Linked DNA regions of Homo sapiens. The protein of the gene in region 4 purifies or fractionates together with the protein of the main gene of each other region. This does not show direct contact. Each region holds a gene or a part of one and is shown on either strand. Other genes may lie near its edges.

What was found. The genes of interacting proteins can lie anywhere in the genome.
Region 1: the proteins of EEF1D (region 4) and EEF1A2 purify together in Homo sapiens (co-immunoprecipitation; 4 studies listed by BioGRID and IntAct, with this or other methods). This does not show direct contact.
Region 2: the proteins of EEF1D (region 4) and TUBB8 purify together in Homo sapiens (affinity purification with mass spectrometry; 2 studies listed by BioGRID and IntAct, with this or other methods). This does not show direct contact.
Region 3: the proteins of EEF1D (region 4) and RRBP1 purify together in Homo sapiens (affinity purification with mass spectrometry; 3 studies listed by BioGRID and IntAct, with this or other methods). This does not show direct contact.

The regions. Positions count from the first base shown.
Region 1 is NC_000020.11:63,489,084-63,492,583, reverse strand, and holds part of EEF1A2 (elongation factor 1-alpha 2), read left to right. Parts: intron 1-1,848; coding exon 1,849-2,105; intron 2,106-3,431; coding exon 3,432-3,500. UniProt on the Homo sapiens protein: Translation elongation factor that catalyzes the GTP-dependent binding of aminoacyl-tRNA (aa-tRNA) to the A-site of ribosomes during the elongation phase of protein synthesis.
Region 2 is NC_000010.11:46,497-50,700, forward strand, and holds TUBB8 (tubulin beta-8 chain), read right to left. Parts: upstream 2,801-4,204; 5' UTR 2,743-2,800; coding exon 2,686-2,742; intron 2,417-2,685; coding exon 2,308-2,416; intron 2,230-2,307; coding exon 2,119-2,229; intron 1,963-2,118; exon of another isoform or gene 1,929-1,962; intron 1,787-1,928; coding exon of another isoform or gene 1,619-1,786; coding exon 561-1,618; 3' UTR 392-560; downstream 1-391. UniProt on the Homo sapiens protein: Tubulin is the major constituent of microtubules, a cylinder consisting of laterally associated linear protofilaments composed of alpha- and beta-tubulin heterodimers.
Region 3 is NC_000020.11:17,661,743-17,665,242, reverse strand, and holds part of RRBP1 (ribosome-binding protein 1), read left to right. Parts: intron 1-3,500. UniProt on the Homo sapiens protein: Acts as a ribosome receptor and mediates interaction between the ribosome and the endoplasmic reticulum membrane.
Region 4 is NC_000008.11:143,580,416-143,583,915, forward strand, and holds part of EEF1D (elongation factor 1-delta), read right to left. Parts: intron 914-3,500; coding exon 814-913; intron 740-813; coding exon 639-739; intron 313-638; coding exon 91-312; intron 1-90.

The DNA.
Region 1 (3,500 bases), on a different chromosome or scaffold from region 4:
ATCCATTGTCCCACCCATCCATCCTTCTCTCTATCCATCCATCCATCCTTCCATCCATCCATCCACCTCCCCACCCATCCATCCTTCTGTCCATCCATCCATCCATCCATCTCTCCATCCATCCATCCATCCATCCATTGTCTCAACCATCCATCCTTCTCTCTATCCATCCATCCATCCATCCATCCATCTACCCACCCATCCATCCTTCTCTCTATCCATCCATCTATTGACCCACCCATCCATCCTTCTATCTATCCATCCATCCATTCATCCACTCACCCACCTACCCACCCATCCATCCTTCTGTACATCCATCCATCCATCCATCCACCCACCTACCTATCCATCCATCCTTCCATCCATCCATTTATCCATCCATCCATCCATCCATCTATCCACCCACCTACCCACCCATACATCCATCCATCCACCTCCCCATCCATCCACTTCCCCATCCATCCATCCATCCATCCATCTCCCCATCCACCCATCCACCTCTCTATCCATCCATCTCCCCACCCAGCCATCCTTCCCTCCATCATCCATCCATCCATCTCATCCATCCGTTCATCTCCTCATCCATCCATCCATCCATCCATCCATCCATCCATCCATCCATCCACCTCCCCATCCGTCCGTCCATCCATCCATCCATCCATCTATCCCCCCATCCATCCATCCATCCATCCATCCATCCATCCATCTATCCATCCACCTCCCCATCCATCCATTCATCCACCCACCTTCCTACCCATCCATCCTTCTGTCCATCCACTCATCTACCTCCTCATCCATCCATCCATCCATCCATCCACCAATCCATCCATCCATCTCCCTACTCATCCATCTCCCCACCCATCCTTCTGTCCATCCACCTCCCCATCCATCTACCACCCCATTCATACATCCATCCATCCATCCACCCACCTCCCCATCCATCCGTCCATCCATCCATCCATCCCACCAAGAAGAGAAACCATAAACAAATCTGAGACCCTAGAGAAGGGCACTGATAGGAGACCCCCAGCCAGTGGGCTGCAGCCAAAGATGTTGCAGGCATCTCTGTGTGCACTGTGGGGGCATCATGCTCACCCCAGCACAGAGCACAGCCACTGGCCTCAGTGAAGTTGGCTGGAGGCTACAACAGGCCTCCCTCACAGCCCTGGGAGGTGAGGGTGGAGACCCAGTAGCCTGGGGGGGGACAAGACCCCCATGTGGCAGCTGCACAATTGGTTTAAGTAGATCCATGAGAAATGCCAGGGACGCTCATGTGCCGCTGTGCCTGTGCTGCATCTGGCTGAGAGGCCCCTTTAGTGATAGAGACCTGCAGCATCCAAGTGGGGCCCAGAGAGCCTGCAGGGAGCAGGGAGCAGGGCCTGCAGGGAGCAGGGAGCAGGGCCACCAGGCCCCAGGCAGAAGCAGTCAGTCGCCCCGCCCACACTCACAGGGAGGAGTCCTCAGACAAAGGAGGGGTCCCATAGTGCCTCCTTTGAGGGAAAGTGCTCTCCGGGGGCAAGGATGGGACCCCAGGTTCAGACAGCCCCTCTCTGCCCATCCTCCCGCTTCTCTGTCCCTGTGGCTTTTCCGTGGGTTCCTGGGAGCTCTGCTGCTCAGCCTCTTATTTCCCCAGCTGGGTGGGAGAGCCCCCACTTCCCTTGGAATCTCTGTGTCTGCCCTTGTCCCTGGCCTCCCTTCCCCTGCACTCCGCCCATGTGGCCCCAACCCCCAGGCCTGTCGGGGGGATCCAGTCCCAGGCTTTGTTGGTTTCCAGGCTCTGTCCCCGAATATCCTGCCCCAGCATCCCCTCGGGCCCCACCTTCCCCTCACACCCCCTCCCCTCTGCAGGCATTGGCACGGTGCCCGTGGGCCGGGTGGAGACCGGCATCCTGCGGCCGGGCATGGTGGTGACCTTTGCGCCAGTGAACATCACCACTGAGGTGAAGTCAGTGGAGATGCACCACGAGGCTCTGAGCGAAGCTCTGCCCGGCGACAACGTCGGCTTCAATGTGAAGAACGTGTCGGTGAAGGACATCCGGCGGGGCAACGTGTGTGGGGACAGCAAGTCTGACCCGCCGCAGGAGGCTGCTCAGTTCACCTCCCAGGTGGGGGGCTGCGCTGGGTCCAGGGGGCTGGCGCCTGCTGGACAGCAGCAGGACTGTCCTGGGTGAGGCTGCTGTCGGCAGGTGGCCTGGCGTGGGGAGAAAACCAGACCCTCAGGCTGGGCGCAGTGGTTCACGCCTGTAATCCCAGCACTTTGAGAGGCCGAGGCGGGCAGATCACGAGGTCAAGAGATCAAGTCCATCCTGGTCAACATGGTGAAACCCCGTCTCTACTAAAAATACAAAAATTAGCCAGGCGTGGTGGCACGTGCCTGTAGTCCCAGCTATCAGGAAGCTGAGGCAGGAGAATCGCTTGAACCTGGGAGGCGGAGGTTGCAGTGAGCCGAGATTGCGCCACTGCACTCCAGCCTGCGTGACAGAGCGAGACTTCGTCTCAAAAGAAAAAAAAAAAAAGAAAAGGGACCCGCATACCACCGAGGGGGCCACCGAGCACTCAACGAGGGGATCAATCAGTTCTGGGAGGGGTGCAGGCCCTGTGGCTCCCAGCCTGTGTGCAATCGCGGGTCTGTCTTCCACGCTGCACTGCTGGGATGCCCAGCCTTTGAGGTCCTACATTCGTCCTAGAAAAACGCTTTTGTTAACTTACTGTCTGAGACATCTCTGTCATACTTTTATTCTCTACAGTCTTCATTGCCCCTCTTTGCTGGCCTCTTCATATGATTTATTTATTTTTTTTTTGAGACGGAGTCTCGCTCTGTTGCCCAGGCTGGAGTGCAGTGGTGCGATCTCGGCTCACTGCAACCTCCGCCTCCCGGGTTCAAGTGATTCTCCTGCCTCAGCCTCCCAAGTAGGTAAGATTACAGGCATGTGCCACCACGCCTGGCTAATTTTTGTATTATTAGTAGATACGGGGTTTCACCATGTTGGCCAGGCCGGTCTCGAACTCCTGACCTCAAGTGATCCACGTGCGTCAGCCTCCCAAAGTACTGGGATGACAGGTGTGAGCCACCGTGCCTGGCCTCTTCATATGATTTTTAAAAGTGGCTTTATTGAGATACAACTGAAACACAGGAATTGAGGTCCAGTTTTGTCACCCCCCCGCCTTAGTTCCAGCTGGGGTTGGCCGTGTAAGTGCTGCCCCTGCCCCTTCGAAACAATGAATCTCAGTTGTTTATCTTTTGCTTAATGAGGATGTTGAGGTTCAGGTCTGGGGGCTGGGTCCTCAGAGCCTGAGCCCCCTCCAGTCAGCACTCCGGGCCCAGGAGCCCGTGCAGGGGCGCCGGTGACTGGGCCTCCCAGCCCCGCTCTGGCGCCCTCCCGGTGCCCACCGCCGATGTGCCTGATGGCCGCCTGTGGCTCCGCTCGCAGGTCATCATCCTGAACCACCCGGGGCAGATTAGCGCCGGCTACTCCCCGGTCATCGACTGCCACACAGCC
Region 2 (4,204 bases), on a different chromosome or scaffold from region 4:
CCACCCTTCATTGCTGGTTCAGAGCCAGCTCTGACCACATTCCTACCCTGAGATGGGACTCTGGGGACATTGTCCACCAGGGTCACTGACCCCTTTTAACGTTCCAGAAACATGGCCAGCTGGTCCCCTAGAAGTTTGGTATATGGGATAAGCCAAGGCTTGCCTTCAGCAACAGGTTTTCCACCACGTCACTGCCCAAGGCCCAGGGCATCCCCAAGTTCATGTGAAGCCTGCCTGCCATGTCCACAGCCCATACCGACCCCTCCTGGAGCCACTGGAATGCTTGTTCCTGGGCATGTGATGAACCCAGACAGCTTCCGCCTTGCAGGACAACTATGCGCATCTGGCAGCAGTAGCCAGAGGGCCCATAGAAAGAAGATGGAGGCAAAACCAGATGCTGTGAGAATACTTTATTAGTCAAAACCGCATACTATAAAAATGCTTTAAAACGCAGCAGGAGATGTGAAGACACAAATTAACAAGCGTATAGTGACACATGGCTGTCAGAACACAGTAAAGAATCCACACTGCTTCCCCCCTTTACCTAGAAAAGGAGAGTTCTAGGCCACCTCCTCCTCGGCATACTCCTCATCCTCCTCCTCCTCGGCCGTGGCATCCTGATATTGCTGATATTCAGACACCAGGTCGTTCATGTTGCTCTCGGCCTCGGTGAATTCCATCTCATCCATGCCCTCGCCCGTGTACCAGTGGAGGAAGGCCTTGCGCCTGAACATTGCTGTAAACTGCTCTGAGACACGCTTGAAGAGTTCCTGGATGGCCGTATTATTCCCAATGAAGGTGGCTGACATTTTTAGCCCCCGGGGTGGGATGTCACAGACGGCTGTTTTTACGTTGTTGGGGAGCCAGTCAGCAAAGTAACTGCTGTTCTTATCTTGAATGTTGAACATTTGTTCATCCACCTCCCTCATGGGCATGCGACCCCTGAAAATGGCAGCCGCCGTTAGGTAGCGGCCGTGACGGGGGTCACAGGCAGCCATCATGTTCTTAGCATCAAACATCTGCTGGGTAAGCTCAGCCACAGTCAAGGCCCGGTACTGCTGGCTGCCCCGGCTGGTCAGTGGGGCAAAGCCGGGCATGAAGAAATGCAGCCGGGGAAACGGGACCATGTTCACGGCCAGCTTCCGCAGGTCAGCATTCAGCTGGCCCGGGAAGCGCAGGCACGTGGTGACCCCACTCATGGTAGCAGACACCAGGTGGTTCAGGTCACCATAGGTGGGTGTGGGCAGTTTTAGGGTCTTGGAACATATGTCATACAGAGCTTCGTTATCTATGCAAAAGGTCTCATCTGCGTTTTCTATGAGCTGGTGGACTGAGAGGGTGGCGTTGTAGGGCTCCACCACGGTGTCCGACACCTTGGGCGAGGGCAGGATGCTGAATGTGTTTATGATCCTGTCTGGGTACTCCTCCCGGATCTTACTGAGCAGAAGGGTACCCATCCCAGACCCAGTCCCCCCACCCAGGGAGTGGGTCAGCTGGAAACCCTGCAGGCAGTCACAGCTCTCAGCCTCCTTTCTGACAACGTCCATCACTGACTCCATCAGCTCCGCGCCTTCGGTGTAGTGTCCCTTGGCCCAGTTGTTTCCGGCCCCACACTGACCTGTAAGACAGCACAGCCGGTCACTCGACGGCCAGGTATACGGTCATCAGTGGTCACCACCATAATGCAGAAAGAGCCAAGCGTCACACGTGAGGTGAGAGCACCGTTCGCCCTGCAGGTGGAGCAGATGAAACCCCCTCCCCCAGAGTTACAGGACAGCAGCTTCCCCTGTTAGGAATTAAGACAGGAGTCAAACCTGAGACGGGTTCACAGACCTCGCTGCAGGTGGCTCCTGCCCATTCTCAGGAAAGGCAGTAGCCACGGCCCCAGCTCAGGTTCTTGCAGGGAGTTTACATCAGTAACTCCTCACCTTGAGGAGACACCAGGGCCTTCCTCCCGAAGCCCATTTAGGAGAGGCAGATTGAGCGACTCGACTCGGAGGATAGGAGGGTGTTCAGGGGCCCTAGCTCCACAGTTCCCAGAGGATGACCTTAGCACACTCCTGGATTTTGAGCTGCCCTGGCTAAGGAGCCGCACCCCAGTCCTCGCCCGCAGCTCACCGAAGATGAAGTTGTCTGGCCTGAAGACCTGCCCGAAGGGCCCCGAGCGCACAGAGTCCATGGTGCCCGGCTCCAGATCCACGAGCACAGCGCGGGGCACGTACCTGCCACCTGCGTGGGGCGGGAGGGCATGAGCGAGGGGAGGGCCGCGTTCCCAGGAGGGCGGTGGGGGAAGGACGGGGGTCTCACCGCTGGCCTCGTTGTAGTACACGTTGATGCGCTCCAGCTGCAGGTGGCTGTCCCCGTGGTAGGTGCCAGCGGAGTCGATGGCATGTTCATCAGAGATCACCTCCCAGAACTGCAAGAGACGGGAGGAGACAGACAGGCCGGGGCTGAGTCAGGGAGGCGCCCCAGCCGCTCTCCCACCCCCACCCTCATCCGCACCCCCATCCCTAGGCCGCCCTGTCCCTGGGGTCCACCCCGGCCGCCTCGCCAGCCACCCGGTTCCACCGTCCCCGGCAGGGAGCCCAGGGGCCGCAATGCATGGGCACCGCCCCCGCCACTGCCAACACCTTCCCCGGCCACCCGGCAGGCCCGGGCTAGGCCCTCAGAGCCCCGGCTGCCAACCTTGGCGCCGATCTGATTCCCGCACTGCCCGATCTGCGTGAGCACGATCTCCCTCATGGCCAAGGCGGGATTAGGACGGCAGGAGAAACGTGAGAAGGAGGAGCAGACGCGCAGCGACCCAGCCCGCCCTCCGCCAACGTTTAAATAGCCCCGCGCCCACCTCCCTCCGCCTCGGATTCGGCTCCCAGAATAAGCAACAGCTTTACTTCCACACAGGTGCACCCACCTGTGGATCCCCTGGCGCTGAACATCTGTTGGAAAGCTCAGGTGTCCTTGCGTGGTCCTTTCCACGTTGGGGAAAGCTGCTCGCTGGAGAACTTCCTCCCGCGTCTTTAGTAAGACTAAATCCCTAGCTGAGCTGAAACTGAATTTTCCTCCCATGTGGGAGGGGAAGACTCTTGTTTCCATATGCACGGAGTGCCTTTGCACCTGTCCTAGATTGATGACATATTTTTGTAATTGATGAGTCTTTTCATCTATTAGGAGATCTGTGGTTAGGAAAGGCCTTCCACATGTGAACTCAACAGGACTCAATTATACGTTTTACTTTGGAGCAGTTCTAACCCACAATAAGCTATGGGTGTTAGAGACAGTCAGGCCTCTGATTTAGCTGGAGTCTTCTTTAGAGTAGGGTTAGCCCTTTCACCTTTCCAGAGGACTGTGGTCTCCAGCAGAGTGAAGGTCATATTGGATTCTTAAAGCTGAGGACAGGTTTTGGGATACGCCTGCTGTGAAAGATGGGCCATTGTCACTTTGCAGGCTTTTGGATTACCCAAACTGAGGAGTTATTTCTTCTGGTAAACATTTTTCAGATGGGGTGGGGAATGCCTCGATCTAACCAGTGAAGGTGTCAGTAAGCATTAGCAAATATTTGAATCTCCTGCAGAAAGGCTTCCGGGTAAATTAGAGTGGCCAGTTCTCACCTGGATAGGTTCCTCAATTTTGGACAGGTTTAACTGGAGAAGGAGAAAATTGCTGGCCATTTGAGTCATGTCAGGCACAAAGCTCACAGGGCTGAGTCACCTGTTTTAGTGTCTTGAAAAGATTTACCCCTATAAACAAATGAGACATTAACAGAAACAAAGAATCCCTTCTAGGGTGAAAAGAATCATGAAAGTGCTGAGTTATACTCCTGTGATTGGTACTTGGCATTAGTAATTTATTACCATCATTCAGCCCGAGGGGCCCTGGACTGAAATGCAATCCCTGGCCCATTTTCGTTCTTCTTCAGGGTATTCTGGCCCAGTTCTATGTATGCTGACCAGCACGCCCACAAGCTTCATTGGCCCTTTCAGTGCAGGGGCCTTGGCTGTGGCATCTACAAGGGCATTTCCTTTTACATGGTCAGTCTCTCTTTTGATGTCCTCTGCAATTAATTATACTCACTTTTTGGCAGCAAAGCAGCACTCTAACAAGCTCAAAATCTGAACGATGTTGTATGGAAAAGCCCTTGGGGGTCAGGAGTCCCCACCCATTCCAAATTGCAGCATAAGCATGAAGCACTAAAAAATCATACTTG
Region 3 (3,500 bases), on a different chromosome or scaffold from region 4:
GGTAGAGATAGATACATGTAATAGAAGCAAAAGCAGGTGGAAGTGGTAAGTGGCCCATTCAGGGTGTTGTCCCCCTCTAGAAGGGAGATGACATATATATACATATACACATGTGTGTGTGTCCCCCCCCCACATATATATGTATACACAGGCACATACATATATATATAAATAAATATCTAAAGTGCATATGGCAAAATGTTAGGGTTTGGTAAACCTGGGTGGTAGGCTAATGGATGTTCATATTTTTCTTTTTAGTCTTTTGTATGAGTCATTTCATAATATTTTAAAAATTAGGAGCTGTTGATTCTGATGTAGCCATGTCTGCTAGGGTCTCTGTTTTATTGTCATTCTGTTTTAGTTCTGTACCTTCCTAGCAGGTCACCTTATGCCCAGGAAATGGATCTGGGGGTTGGTTTTCTTTGTCCACCCCTACCCCACAGCTTCTCCAAGCTTCCACACACGGTCCCCCGTGGAGCTGCTGCTTAGTAATGAGACAGAGTCCTGGGAGCTGTTGAGGGTCTTTTCACAAAACCTACCAAAATCCCAGCTGCCAAATTGGACCCAACTGGCTTGGCCGGGCCATGTGAATTAGCAGATATCTTCTGTGTCTAAAGAGTTTGGGGCTTCCTCTTACTTTTGTTCCCCGAATCTTAAGAACAGAAGAAGAGCCATTCTCTCAAGATCTTAGAGGTGGGCCAGTGAGTTCAGTCTGTCCAGCCTCTGCGCAGCCTCCTACATCCTTCCCTCTTGGGGCCTTCATCTTTTTGTCTTACAGTCTGAGTATGTTAGCAATATCGTAGTCCCCCTTTATCTATGGTTTCACTCTTTGTGGTTTCAGTTACCAGCAGAAAGCTGTGGTCTGACAATATTAAATGGAAAATTTCAGAAAGAAACTCTTCCTGAGTTTTAAGTTGCATGCCATTCTGAGTAGCGTCTTGCCTGGGATGTGAACGATCCCGTGTGCAGTGGATTCACGCCGTCTGTGTTACCTGCCTGTGCGTCACTTGGTGGCCCTCTCAGCTTTCAGATCCACTGTCTGGTATCACAGTGCGTGTGTTTGAGTCACCCTTACTTTACTTAATCATGGCCCCAAAGTGCAAGAGTGGTGATGCTAGCATATGGTTATAATTGTTCTATTTTATTATTGTTAATCTCGTACTGTGGCTAATTTCTAAATTAAATTTCATCATAGGTATGTAGGTATAGGAAAAAAATAGTGTATATAGGATTCAGTATTACTGCAGTTTCAGACCCACTGGGGGTGTTGGGAAGTTTCCCAGAGGATAAGGGAGGACCACTGCAGGGAGTAAAAGTACGTATTTGACAGAAGTTTCTGGAATTGACAGAATATAGATCCCTGTGGTCAGACCCTACAAGGTATGGGTGGGCACACATCTGCCCTAACTCTGGTGCAGTGGAGGAAGCCCTAGAAGAGGTTTCTGTTGGGGGCCTCTTATCATGGTGTGGATTTCAGGAGCAAATCTCCCGGAATGCTGATTGTGAGAACCGAATTTGAGAGGCATCCCTGGCTTCATCATTTCTGTGAATCAGGGATCTCCCAGCATGATGTTTACGCCTCACTGAAGCTGACTCTGCAAAGCAGCAGAAAGGTTGTTTTTCATTTCGATTTCTTTGCTGTCCGTGGTGGTATTGCCTTAGCCTTAAATGTTTCAGTGTATTACTACTTAAGACTAGGGCTTTTCATTTTCTTGTGAAAGATTTCTTTTAAAAAATTCTAACTTGGGAATTAGTGGTGGGGATGTAATTTCTTTTTCTGCAAAAGTTGGGAAGACACATTTGTGCTGCTATAAAACATATATTTGTGTGCGTTGCAAAGGAAAAATATTCTCCCGAGTTTGTTTTTCTCGATTCTGGGTCCCAACAGAGAATATGTTTTTGTATTCTGTGTTTGCCTATGTTGAGTAAGATTAAAAGTTCATTTTCCAGCCTTGGCTTTTCTGCTGGAGTTTAGAAGTTGGAAACCACAAGGCTGCACAGAGCCCCACAGTCCTCGGCTGTGAACAGGCCCCGCTTTGTGCGTGGCTGTTCACTGTGTCACGGTCTGCAACCAGTGCCAATCGCGACTCGGTAAAGACCACCCCTCGAGCACATGGTTGTTGGGAAACGATTCGGGGTTTATGGAGCCTCAGTGAGGGTGACCCAGGCCCCTAATGTTCGTTTCTCTAGAGAAGGGGAGTGTTTTAGAGGATTTTTTATTTTTTTTTAAATAGAGATGGGGTCTCACTATGTTGCCTGGGTTGGCCTTGAACTCCAGAGCTCAAGCGATCCTCCCTCCTCAGCTTCCCAAGGTGCTAAGATCACAGGCTTGTACCACCATGCCTGGCCTTAGGATTTTTGAATGTAGTGATTATAATGTGGTGTCCATTTTGGCAGAGTTCTGAGAAATCTTGTAAGTACCCAGAGGAGTTTTGGTTGGTGGGTACCTGCCAAAAAGTGAGGGTTGACTGTACCATGTTCCAGACCTTCTTGTCCCCATCCTCCTACCCACTGAATCCATCCATGGCTGAGCAGGGTGCGATTTCCTTTTTAACACCCAGCTTGAGAGTGTGTTCTCGGAAGGCCAGTTCCTGGTATCCTCCCTCGATGATCAAACGTGAGAGTGCCCTGGCTGTGGATCACACTGTCACTGCCCACGGCCAGAGGTCAGAACCCATTTGGAAATATAAATGCTGCCTTACCCAGGATTCAAAGGCCTCCATGAGCTCCCCTAAGACTTTGTAGAGGTTAAGACTGGAATGAAAAGTGTGACTCAGTCTCGCTCAACGCCGAGTGACAGTGTGGGAGAAGTGTGTTGCCACAGCAGCTGATAGAGTTGTCCCCAGGGAGAGCATATGCTAGGAAGTTTCTTCGTCATGAGTGTTTTAAACCCTCTTCTTGTGAAGGTCTTAGAAAGGTCAAAGTAATGTGTTCCTTCTGTGATGAGAGTGATTTTTTTTTTTTTGAAAATTTTTTTTTTGAGACGGAGTCTCGCTCTGTCGCCCAGGCTAGAGTGCAGTGGCGCGATCTTGGCTCACTGCAAGCTCCACCTCCCAGGTTCATCCCATTCTCCTGCCTCAGCCTCCCGAGTAGCCTGGACTACAGGCACCCGCCGCCACGCCTGGCTAAGTTTTTTGTATTTTTAGTAGAGTCAGGGTTTCACCGTGTTAGCCAGGATGGTCTCGATCTCCTGACCTCGTGATCTGCCTGCCTTGGCCTCCCAAAGTGCTGGGATTACAGGCGTGAGCCACCGCGCCCGGCCGAGAGTGATTTTTCTTAGAACACAATGCCAAGACATTGAAAACAGTCTCCCTTCTCAGTCCCTTCTTTAAAATGCCCTCATGTCAAAATTTGGATTTGATTCCTACTCTGTTTCCTTCCTCTATAACCACTCAAGAGGAGTGGGGATCTCAATGTCTTAGGAGAAGAATCTCAGTATCTGAGCCACTAAGCAGCCTGGACCCAGTCTCCCACAGCATCTAGAGGTTTTGCAGGGCAAT
Region 4 (3,500 bases):
CAGAGGGCAGGGGGAGGGTCACAGGCTGAGCCGGCTAGGCGGGCACCAGGGCAGTGCCTGGCCCCCTGAAGCCCCACCCCGCCCACTCACAGGCTTGACATCCAGCAGGATGGAGGACTTGGCCACCAGTGCAGGCTTCTTGGCCTTCTTCTCCGCGTACTGCCGTAGCCGCTCCTCCCGCAGCTGTGCCGCCTCCTTGTCCTCCTCCTCATTGTCACTGCCAAACAGGTCAATGTCATCATCCTCGTCATCCTCTGCTGGTGTGGCTGGCTTCTTGGCTGGGGGCTCCACTTGGCGCATGGGAGATACGTGCTGCCACAGGGGAAGGGACAGGAGGCACGGCTGAGACGCCCCAACCAGGGCCCAGAGCTGCCTGGCCACCTCCTGGCCCTCCTCCCTCCTTTGACTGGAGGAAGGGCAGCCCCTGTGTACCGCAGCTGTGTACATGCAGGGCCCCAGGAAAGACAAAAACTGCCTCCACCTGCCCAGGGCTAACTGTAAACCTTCCTGGGGACCTGAGGACTCCAGTATCCTGGCTGCCAGCTCATCACTGCTGCTGGGGCCAGCCCACAGGGCGACGTGGAAGCCAGCAGGGCCACGTGGTCCCCTGCAGTGTCAGGCGTGGGGAGAGCATTCACCTGGGTCTGTGGGGCCGTGGCCCGGTGGCCAGGCGAGCTCTTCTCCAGCACGTTCAGCCGGGCCTCCAGCTTGGAGATGGCCTGCTGCAGCTCCTGTACCACTGGGGGGGCAAGGGGAGCACGGTTAGATGGCAGGGGCCAGGGACAGCCCCAACCCACTGGCCCGGGGCCTCACCGCCACGCAGACTCTGGTTCTCCACTTCCAGACTGGCAATCCGGACGACGAGCTCACCGTGGTCTCCGCTGGTGCCGCTGGAGGCCCCGGGGCCTGAGCTCTGCAAGGCAGGAGGAGGGGAGGGCTCAGTGCCCAGCCTGCTCCTAGGGTCCCCCTGCCATGCTCAGGACTGCAGGAACTCACGGAAGGAAAACTACAGCTCGGGAGAGCAGGAGGTGCCCCCCGCTGATGCCCAGCTCAAACTTATGACCTCAGAGGTGGCGGCCACCACAGACCACAGTGAAATTCTCAGCCAGGCAAAGTCCAGGACAGGAGGCTCTTGGTGCCCCAGAGACGGAGGCTGTGGGGAGCTGGGCCATGGCTGCTGCTGCCCGGCGGAATCCTGCTGAGCAGCCAGGCTCAGAGGCTGGGTGGGAGGTGCTGAAGGACTCACAGTCCTAGGGACAACCTGGGACACGCCTCAGGGGACCAGGCAGCACTGGAAATGGGAGGCGGGAGCAGCTGAGGGCCCAGTGGGGGAAGAAGGAAGGAGCCCACCTGTGTGGACAGCAGCCACCCAAAGCTTTGTCTCCCTGGGCCTCACGCCTGCCATCTCACTCAGCAAGCCAGTCTCTAGGTGATCCAGGGCCCCAAGCCCACCTCATACTCTGCCATAGCTGAGACTGATACCTCGGGGCCCAGACAGGATCCCAGCCTCCTGGCCCTTAACACTAGCCAGTCCTTAAGCATCTACCTGCACGCATGGGCCATTTAGCCTGCCCACCCTCCAACAGGATGGCTCGAAGGACAGGGTGCACCTGGCTGCATGGAGCTCTCAGCAAACCCCATCTCGGCAGCTCCCCGGGGCTCCCTCTCTGTGGGGAGGGGCCTGGAGTAGCCGGGCAGGCAAAGCCGCTCCTTGCAGCAGGTGCGGACATACTCAGGCCTTTGCCCAACGTGCAAACCCATCCCTGGGGCCCTCCTGCCACCGTCCTTGGGACCATGCTGTGGGGAATGCTTGTTTATGTATCTGGAGGGTGTGGGAGCTAAGCCCCGCAGATCATGGGCAAGGCCGAGCCAAACTGGCCCAGGAGGCCCACCTGGCAGCAAGGCCAGGAGGAAATGGACAGGGAAAGGCCAGGCTGGCAGAGGCGCGTGAATGGTGGTGGGGGTACGGGAGGCACCGGCAGAAACTGACAAACTCGGGGGCAGAAGCCGGAGCACGGGAGGGCCAGGCTTTGGGGCGCCAGGGGGCATGGAGAATCACAGCAGACCTCCCGCGGGAGTGGGGCTGGGTCCTGAGGAGGCCGGAGTCTGTGAGTGGCACCTGAGGCCTCATGCACCCCACACAGCAGGCCCAAGGACAGGGAAAAGGTCCCCTCTGGAAGAGGCACTAAGTCAGCACTGGCCCCGGGCTGCATGATGAGCAGCGGGGGCCGTCTCACCACTGCCTGGCTCTGCGGGCCACTAGGCCAGAGCCCACAGCACTCAGGACACAGGGAGAGTCCCCTCCTTTGATGCTGACTCAGGGGGGACTAGGGATGCCAGGCATCAGAATCCCTGAGCACAGCTTCAACGGGCAGGCTCAGGTCACCCAGTGCAGTCACAGCGGGCCTCAGAGAGCCCCTCAGGGACTTGGGGGATGCCAAAGGCAAACACTTCAGAGCCAGACCCATGCCTGTAACCCTGTGCCAGCACCACGCTACCAGAAACCCTGCAGTTCTGAAACCCCAGTGTCTGCTGAGCACTCCCACCCCAAATCCAAGATGAGACTGGGCCCCTGCCATGGGCTGAATAATGTCCTTCCAAATCCACATGCTGGAGTCTTATCCCCCGGTATCTTAGGATGTGACCTTATTTGGAGACAGGGCCTTTGCAGAGGTAACTGTCACTGAGGGGCAGGGGGCTAATCCAATCTGACTGGTGTCCAATAAGAAGACATCAGGACACACACACACTCAGATGGATGACCGTGTGAAGACATGGAGAAGACGGTCTACATGCTGAGAGAGGCCTCAGGAGAAACCAGCCTTGCTGCCACCTCGATCATGGACTTCCAGCCTCCAGAGCTGTGAGAAAATACATGTGGTTTAAGTCACCCAGTCTATGGACCTTTGTTATAGCAGCAAACCAGTCCCTAAGCCCTAACAGTGCGACCACCTGCCTGTCCCAGAGACACCTTAGGGTTGACTCCACACAGCCAGGGCTGAAGAGTTCCTGCAGCCCCAGGGCCAAGCCCCCGACCGCTGCCTTCTGGGCACTGGAGTGCAATATGCCTGACTTGGGCGCAAAAATCTGTGCTCCCTTAATCTCATGTCTGCCTAGCCTGGACTTGGTCAGGTGCCTGGGCAAGCCAGGGGTGCAAGCCAGTGGGCAGAACGCAAGGCACAAAGGAGCACCCCACCTGGCAGACAGGAGTGGCAGCCCTTCCTGGGCCCACCCACCCAGGGATGCCCAGCTTATGGCCCGGGAGCCAGCACACCCCTAGGTGGCTGTGGCTGTGGCAGACAGAACAATGGCCCCCACAAAGCCACATACGAGTCCGCAGAGCCTGTAAATATGGTCTCCCATGGCAAAGGGATTCTGTAGATGTGATAAGATTAAGTTAAGCGGCAGAGAGGATGCTGGATCACCCAGGTGGGCCCACTGTCATCACAAGGGCCCACACTAGGCAGCAGGAGCGAGGGAGGGGAGAGGGAGGCTGAGTG